Regions from separate parts of the Homo sapiens genome. Here region 2 is linked to region 1. The links come from fine-mapping of genetic effects on gene expression. Tissue or cell type: whole blood. Region 1 holds a variant in brackets; the other region holds the start of a gene. All regions are shown on one strand. Distances are from middle to middle.

Region 1 (4,158 bases):
TCTCAAACTCCTGACCTCAGGTGATCCGCCTGCCTCAGCCTCCCAAAGTGCTGGGATTACGGGTGTGAGACACCACGCCTGGCTACAAAAGATATTTTTAAATTAGCTTGGCACGGTGGAGCACAAATGTAGTCCCAGCTACGGGAGAGGCTGAGGTGGGAGGTTCGCTTGAACCCAGGAGGTCAAGGCTGCAGTCGGCCATGGTCACACCACTGCACTACAGTCTGGGTGACAGAGTAAGACCTTGGTCTCAAAAAATATGTATATATTTTCTCTTCAACCTAAAAGTTTATTTTTTTCTGATTGTATAAGAAATTAAAACATTTTAGGCTGGGCGCAGTGGCTCACGCCTGTAATCCTAGCACTTTGGGAGGCCGAGGCAGGTGGATCACCTGAGGTCAGGAGTTCAAGACCAGCCCAACCAATATGGTGAAACCCCATCTCTACTAAAAATACAAAAATTAGCCTGGTGTGGTGGCGTGCGCCTGGAGTCCAAGGTACACGGGAGGCTAAGACAGAAGAATCGCTTGAACCCAGGAGACGGAGGTTGCAGTGAGCTGAGATAGTGCCACTGCACTCCAGCCTGTGCAACAGAGCAAGAGTCCATCTCAAAAAAAAAAGAAAGAAAGAAAAGAAATTAAAACATTTTGGTGTCATGGGCCTGAGGCATCATGCCTGCTGAGCCTGGTGGTGCACACAGCTTCCCACGGGGCTCCTGCTATTGGGAGACTTTGGTCCTGACATCCCTGAGACCCCTACTGTGTCCTCTGCTGTCCTCCTCCCAAAGAACAAACAGATCAACACCCCGGCAATATCCATTTTAACTCTTGCTTCCCTCTCTGCCGAGCCCTCCCCAGCAGCACACAGAGGGACTGGGAAGACCCTCAGTTACTGGTGGGGTGTGGGAAACACAGAGGTTTCAGCAACAGATAGATAATGTCCAGTCCCGGCTCTGTCACCTACAAGCTAAGTGGCCATGACAGGTTGCTTCAAGCCTCGTTTCTGCATCTGTGAAAGGGAGCTAACAGCACCTTCGTCCCAGGGTGGTTGTGAGAATTTTTTTAAATTTTATTTTATTTTATTTTATTTTATTTTATTTTATTTTATTTTTGAGACAGAGTCTTGCTCTGTCACCCAGGCTGGAGTGCAGTGGCGCGATCTTGGCTCACTGCAAGCTCCTCCTCCCGGGTTCACGCCATTCTCCTGCCTCAGCCTCCCAAGTGGCTGGGACTACAGGTGCCCGCCACCATGCCCGACTAATTTTTTTGTATTTTTAGTAGAGACGGGGTTTCACCGTGTTAGCCAGGATGGTCTCGATCTCCTGACCTCGTGATCTACCCGCCTCGGCCTCCCACAGGGCTGGGATTACAGGTGTGAGCCACTGTGCCCAGCCTTAATTTTAATTTAAAAAGTTAACCTATGGGCTGGGTGCGATGGCTGACACCTGTAATCCCAGCTACTCAGGAGGCTGAGGCAGGAGAATTGCTTGAAACTGGGAGGCGGAGGTTGCAGTGAGCCGAGATGATGCCATTGCATTCCAGCCTGGGCGACAGAGCAAGACTCCGACCCAAAATAAATAAATAAATTATATATATGACCATCAGGTCTCCAGGATGTTTAGGCTGCCTGAGGGGGGGTCCCCTGCTCCTGCAGCTCTGATGAGCTGACCGTCCCTCCTTCAGGGGACTTCCACAGAGCTCTCGCCTCATCCAGCCCAGGGATCTTCCTGTTTAACTTGATGGCCGGGTCCGGGGCCCCTCTCTACACAGCAGCCACTGGCCATGCCTGGCCACCCATCCCCAGCTAGTGTCCCTCCAGGACCACCCAGGTCCCCTGGAGCTCTGGGGTCATCCCATCTCACCTGAAATCAGGGTGGGGCCTTGAAGGAGGAAGGAATTTGGAGA[C/T]TTAGCAGGGAGTGGGCCAAAGCCACCGAGCTTTCTCCCTTTCTCCACTCCTGCCCCCACAGTCTTTCCACCAACCACTGGTTCTTTGTAAGATGTAAATGACAACATTCCACTCTCCTGCTTTAAACCCTCCAGGTTTCTCCTTGCACTTACAGCGAAATCCAAACTCCCCTCTCAGCTAACCAGCCCCACACGATCGGGTCTGGTCCACCTCTTAGCCCCGTCTCACGCCACCTGCCCCCTGGCCACACTGACATCTCTATCCCTTGAATTCACCAGGCTCATTCTAGTCTCATGCCTTATGTCCTTGCTGTTCCTTCCACCTGGAATTCTTCCTCAGCTCTTGGCTGGATTGAGCTCCTTATCATGTCAGTTTTAACTCAAAAGAGGGATGGATGGACAATCGGATGGATGGATGGGTGCTGTGATACTATTATTACATAAAATAGGTTTTGCCCATGGTTTCTAACTCATAACTCTCACAGCATTTGTTAGTCTTTTGTTATAATGTTGGGGTGCTTTAGGCCTCAGGAACAGGCCTCAGAAAACAGAATCAATCTCTGACCTTTGGCTGTCCTTCCTTCACCTGCTCCTTTCTCTCCTCAAGGTAGGAATCTCCCCCTGCCTTTCTTTCTTAGAACAGAAATTCTGGCCAGGCACAGTGGCTCACACCTGTAGTCCCAGCACTTTGGGAGGTTGAGGCGGGCGAATCACTTGAGGTCAGGAGTTCGAGACCAGCCTGGCCAACATGGCGAAACCCTGTCTTTACTAAAAATACAAAATAATTAGCAGGGCGCGGTGATGCGCACCTGTAATCCCAGCTACTCAGGAGGCTGAGGCAGGAGAATCGCTTGAACCTGGGAGGCTGCAGCGAGCCAAGATCACGCCATTGCACTCCAGCCTGGGTGACAAGAATGAGACTCCATCTCAAAAAAAAAAAAAAAACACAGAAATTCTTCCGTAAAGAAATTCCCTGGCAGGGCGCGTTGGCTCACGCCTGTAATCCCAGCACTTTGGGAGGCCGAGGCAGGCGGATCACCTGAGGTTGGGAGTTCGAAACCAGCCTGACCAACAAGGAGAAACCCCATCTCTACTAAAAATATAAAATTAGCCAGGCGTAGTGGTGCATGCTTGTAATCCCAGCTGCTCGGGAAGCTGAGGCAGGAGAATTTCTGGAACCCAGGAGGCAGAGATTGCAGTGAGCCGAGATCGCACCATTGCACTCCAGCCTGGGCAACAAGAGCAAAACTCCATCTCAAAAAAAAAAAAAAAAAAAAAAAAGAAATTCCCTGACCTACCTTGTCATAAGACCCTCATTTCAGAAGGGGTCCTGCTCCATCCCTTGGAGTAAGAAATGCTGCACAGAGAGGCCAAGAAGAATCTGAACAGACGGGCCTTGCGGGGGTTCCACACTTCGTCTAGTAATATTAGATCAGATCCTTTTTGCCCATTCACAGTTCTACACAGAGGTCAATCATGCCGGCATAATAAAGTCCCCATAAAAGGCCCCAGGGGATTGGGTTTGGGCAGCTTCTGAGATAGCTGAACACATGGCTGTCCTGAAGGATGGTGCTCCCAGGTGGGAGGGGAAGCTCTGCATCTCTTCCCCATAACCCGCCCTAAACATCTCTTCATCTGTATGTTTTATAACATCCTTTATAATAGACCAGTACACACAAATGTTTCCCTGACTTCTGTGAGCCACTCTAACAAATTAACTGAACCCAAAGAGGGGTCGTGGGATCCCCAACTTGAAGTCCAGAGGCTCAGACTTGCAACTGGTGTGGAGGGAGAGGGGAGTCAGGGAGAGGGAGCTCAGGAGTTCGAGACCAGCCTGGCCAACATGGTGAAATCCTGTCTCTACTAAAAATACAAAAATTAGCCAAGCGTGGTGGCACACACCTGTAAGCCCAGCTACTCTGGAAGCTGAGAAAGGAGAATTGCTTGAATCCAGGAGGTTGCAGTGAGCCGAGATTGTGCCACTGTACTCCAGCCTGGGTGACAGAGTGAAACTCTGCCTCAAAAAAGGAGAAAAAAGAGGCCTGGCGTGGTGGCCCACACCTGTAATCCCAGCACTTTGGGAGGTTGAGGTGGGTGGCTTACCTGAGGTCAGGAGCTCGAGACCAGCCTGGCCAACACAGAGAAACCCCGTCTCTACTAAAAATACAAAAATTAGCTGGGCGTGGTGGTGCGCACCTGTAATCCCAGCTACTCGGGAGGCTGAGGCAGGAGAATCACTTGAACCTGGGAGGCA
Region 2 (4,158 bases), 90 kb after region 1:
AAGGTGCCCCTGAGAGGCAGGGTGGGTGTGTTGGCCTGGCTTCCAGATGTGAGTCACTCCTGGTCCGCATCTTCGTCCCTCTTTGGTGCCAGCAGTTTCAGAAGGGGGACGGCCAGGTGGAGAAGGAGGTCCCCGTGACAACCCCCCAGCATGCCCCTCATTTTGCCCAGTGCTCCCCACGCCCCTTCCTCCACCAGGTTCCTGAGTGTAAGGTGAGCACCCCTCCCACCCACCCTCAATTCTCTGCCACAGTGATCTTCCCTAGAGCCCAAATCTGGCCTCAGTACTCACCCTCCCTCTAGCCCTGGCTCCCCAGCCTCCTCCCATACAACAATGTCCAAGCCCTGTGCCCAGCCCATGAGGCCCTCCATGGTCCAGGTCCTGTTGGCTTCCCAGCCTCATCCCCGTTTTTCCCCCACATGCCCGGAACACTGTTCTCCAGCCCTGGCCTTCTCATTCTGGAGCTTCTGCCCATGGTGGAAAGCCAGGCACTTCTCCGCCTACCCTTCACGACCCACCTCCTTTACTCATGCAGCCGCCAGCCCACCATAGCACTTTCTCATGGCTTCCCTTACAGCCATCATCATCTACTTCTTTTTATTTTTATTTTTATTTTTTATTTTTTTTAATTGAGACTGAGTTTCACTCTTATTGCCCAGGCTGGAGTGCAATAGACTGATCTCGGATCACTGCAACCTCTGCCTCCTGGGTTCAAGCGATTCTCCTGCCTCAGCCTCAGGAGTAGCAGGGATTACAGGCATATGCCACCATGCCCAGCTAATTTTGTATTTTTAGTAGAGATGGGGTTTCTCCGTGTTGGTCAGGCTAGTCTCGAACTCCTAACCTTAGGTGATCCGCCCGCCTCGGCTTCCTAAAGAGCTGGGATTACCGGCGTGAGCCACTGCGCCCAGCCCATCATCTACTTCTTAACGTGGTTGTGGTCAGATTCCACCCCAACTATGCGCTCCTTGAGAGTGGGGACTGGGAGGGGTTCAGCTTTGAATCCTCAGAGCCCAGGGCCAGGTACATAGTAGGTGCTCAGTAAAATACCTGCTGAACACTCAGGGAAGGGAGGGCTGTGCCGGGCCTCAGAGGAGATGTTAAGAGAGCAGACAGGGTGGCCAGGCATGGTGGCTCACACCTGTAATCCCATTACTTTGGGAGGCTGAGGCGGGTGGATCAACTGAGGTCAGGAGTTTGAGACCAGCCTGGCCAACGTGGTGAAACCCCGTCTCTACTAAAAGTACATAAATTAGCCGGGTGTGGTGGTGGGGGCCTGTAGTCCCAGCTACTCGGGAGGCTGAGGCAGGAGAATCAGTTGAACCTGGGAGGCAGAGGTTGCAGTGAGCTGAGATCACGCCACTGCACTCCAGCCTGGGCGACAGAGCGAGACTCCATCTCAAAAATAAATATATAAATAAATAAAAATAAAAAAGAGAAAGGACAGGGTGCACAGAGCCAGGACCCCACCCCCTCCTGGTCTGGACCACCCTGGGCCATCTCCTAAGCTTGACACTCTCAGGCCTGAGGCTGTCAGGCCAGGGCGCTTTGACTATCCCCTGCCTGCCCCTGAACGCGGCCAAGCCCGAGGCCTTAGCCAAGCCCTGCAGCCTCAGGCTTGGCGCCCGGCCCAGCCTTTCTTTAGCCTTCCCGAGGAGCCAGCGAGAGAGCGCTGCAGCAGCCGCAGTCCTTGCTTCCGGGGAAGGCCCGGGTGGGGCCAGGGCCTGTGGTTAAGTCAGTGGCCCTCTGCAGACGCGCACGCAGCAGGAGCCACGCCCTGGTCCCTGCCCGGGAGTGGCCTGGTCTCCCCCAGCTCTGATTCCCTGAAGGACCCTGCACCTCCTCAGCCATCTTCTCTGGGCACCCCCTGAGCCCAGCCTGCTGGCCACAGGCCCCTTCCCGCCAACTTGTGGGCCTAGCTCATCATCAAACTATTTTCCACTGGCTTCCCCCAATCTCTGCCACAGCACAATTTTGGTGGGGAGGTGGAGAGGGATGAAGGAGAATAGGAGGTGGAGCTTGGACTCTGGCCGGGGGCGGCGGGGTGAGGGGGGGCAGCAGCTCGCCACTCTGATTGGTCACCTCTGCTCCAAAACTGGCTTCAAAATTCCACGGACTCCGCCCCCAGTGGCCCCCAGCCCTATCCTGACTTGCAATTGGCTGAACTTTCAGGGGGCGGGGCTCACCCGGTCCGGTCCAGTTAAAAGGGTGGGAGCGTCCGGGGGCCCATCTCTCTCGGGTGGAGTCTTCTGACAGCTGGTGCGCCTGCCCGGGAACATCCTCCTGGACTCAATCATGGCTTGTGTGAGTGTGGGGACCCCCCCCCAAGGTCCAGGGGATAGGGCAGGAACTGATGGCCAGAGGAGAGCTGGGCAGATCGGGAGCAGATTCTAGCCCCAGCTGTGTGGCCTGGAACCAGTGCCTTCTCTTTTCTGGACCTCAGTGGCCACATCTGTAAAATGGGGGTGGGCGCCATGGTCCCTCAAGGCCTTCTCTGCATTGATAATTGTCTGGATTCCTCCAGGGTCTGAAAGCACAGTTATTTCTGCCCAGGGTTGACATTCTGCAGCTCTCTGAGAAGTGAGCGTGGGAAGGGTGTGGCCAACTGGGGGACACCCAGGCCACTATCCCTTTCCCCCTCCTCCACCCCAAAGAGCCTCCTGTCCCCTCCCCCCTGCAGCTGTCCCGGTCACCAGGCCAGGGCAGAGTTACCCTCTGCTCCAGAGAACGCTGAAAAGTTGCCAGGACCCGAGACAAGCTGCCCAGGATGGGCCCTTCTAGGTCGGGGGTGGAGGGTGGTTGTGTCCAGGCTGGTGGCGGGGGGGGCGGGGGAAATTCCCTTCCACCACCCCCAAGCTGGGAGGTTGGGGTGGCAGGGAGGTGAGAATCTTCCTCGGGCCCCAGGGAAAGGGTTCAAGTTTCTGGCAGAAGAAACCACTCAAACCAGTTAACTCTTGCCCACCCACTCGGGGTGCCAGGGAACAGCAGTGCCCAGCAGTTTGCTCAATCTTGTTAACCCTGAGCCAGCCCAGCCACAGCCCGACTGCAGGGCTATTCTCCCTAATGCAGAGAGGCCGTGTTTTTCAGGGTCTCCTCTCTAGCCCCTGGGCCTCTTTGCAGAGAGGGGCTTGAAGGAGAATAGTGGGGTCGCCCGCCCCTAGCCACTTCCTCTCCAGCAGAGGGGCCGGCCCCTCCATTCAGTGTGACGGTGGGCCAAGTGTCGGCCCCTCCCCAGCCTGATCCTCTCCATCTGCGATGGGACAGAGCACCCCATCTCCCAAGTCACTCTTGAGTCCAAAATTCCCAAGCCAATCTGCAAAATCTTCTAGAGCCTGTCTTCTAGAACCTTCACGTTACAGACTGAAGCCAACCCCGGTGGGAATAGGGACTTTCCCAGGACCACATAGACAATCGGAGGCTGGAAATTACAGCTCAATCCTTTCCCCAGGCTTCCCCTTGGCTTGGTCAGAGGATGCCGGGCGGGAACAACCCCACTCCCACCCCCAGCCACCCCCGGACACTTCGAGCAGTGGAGGCCTTGTCCTCTAACCCGGCTGGGCCGGGGCTTGTCTGTGCAGGGTCTGGTCGCCAGCAACCTGAATCTCAAACCTGGAGAGTGCCTTCGAGTGCGAGGCGAGGTGGCTCCTGACGCTAAGAGGTGAGAAGTGAAGTCGGGGTGGTGGGCGGCAGGGACGGGCTTGGTCCAGCAGGGAGGGCGTGGCCGGCCAAGCCCACATCTCCTCCCTGGCCGGGAGCGGGTTAACGGCCAGCCGCCGATGCTGCGTTTTCTGGGTGACTCACTTCCCCCGCAGGGTCTGGGCGCCCCCACCGTTGCCGCCCCCTCCCCCGCTCCCTCCCTGCTGTAGCCTCTTAAACTAAACCAGCTGCAGCCTCGTCATCTGTAATACCTTGACTCCCCCGCCCCCACCCCTTTCCGGTCTGGGCGGGACCTGTCGCTGGGGAGGGCGGGGAGAGGAGTGGGGCGGGCGTCACCGCCGCCTTCCCCCTGAGTCCCTCCTTCCTGCGTCTGGTCATTCATTCATTCACTGGCTCAGTCCGGTCCTTCTTCCTTCACTTCTCATTCACTCAGACGGCTGCCTTATTTTCTCGGCAGTTAGGTGACCTTGGACCAGTCAACCAACCTCACCTAGCCTCAGT

The links. PIP is the estimated chance that this variant, and not a neighbour inherited with it, causes the effect.
Region 2: it holds the start of LGALS1, and the variant in region 1 is fine-mapped to the expression of LGALS1 in whole blood (TOPMed, PIP 0.96).

What each region holds. Positions count from the first base shown.
Region 1 is chr22:37,583,615-37,587,772 of GRCh38, forward strand. No RefSeq gene overlaps it. Among named protein-coding and RNA genes, the nearest start is that of LGALS2, 5.6 kb to the left of the region's middle. The variant C/T (reference allele first, on the strand shown) is at 1,905.
Region 2 is chr22:37,673,408-37,677,565 of GRCh38, forward strand. It overlaps LGALS1 (galectin 1), which reads left to right and starts at 2,229. Exons shown (of 4, transcript NM_002305.4): 1 at 2,229-2,304; 2 at 3,579-3,658. The coding sequence starts at 2,296. RefSeq lists silencers at 2,032-2,171, 3,692-4,158 and an enhancer at 4,045-4,158.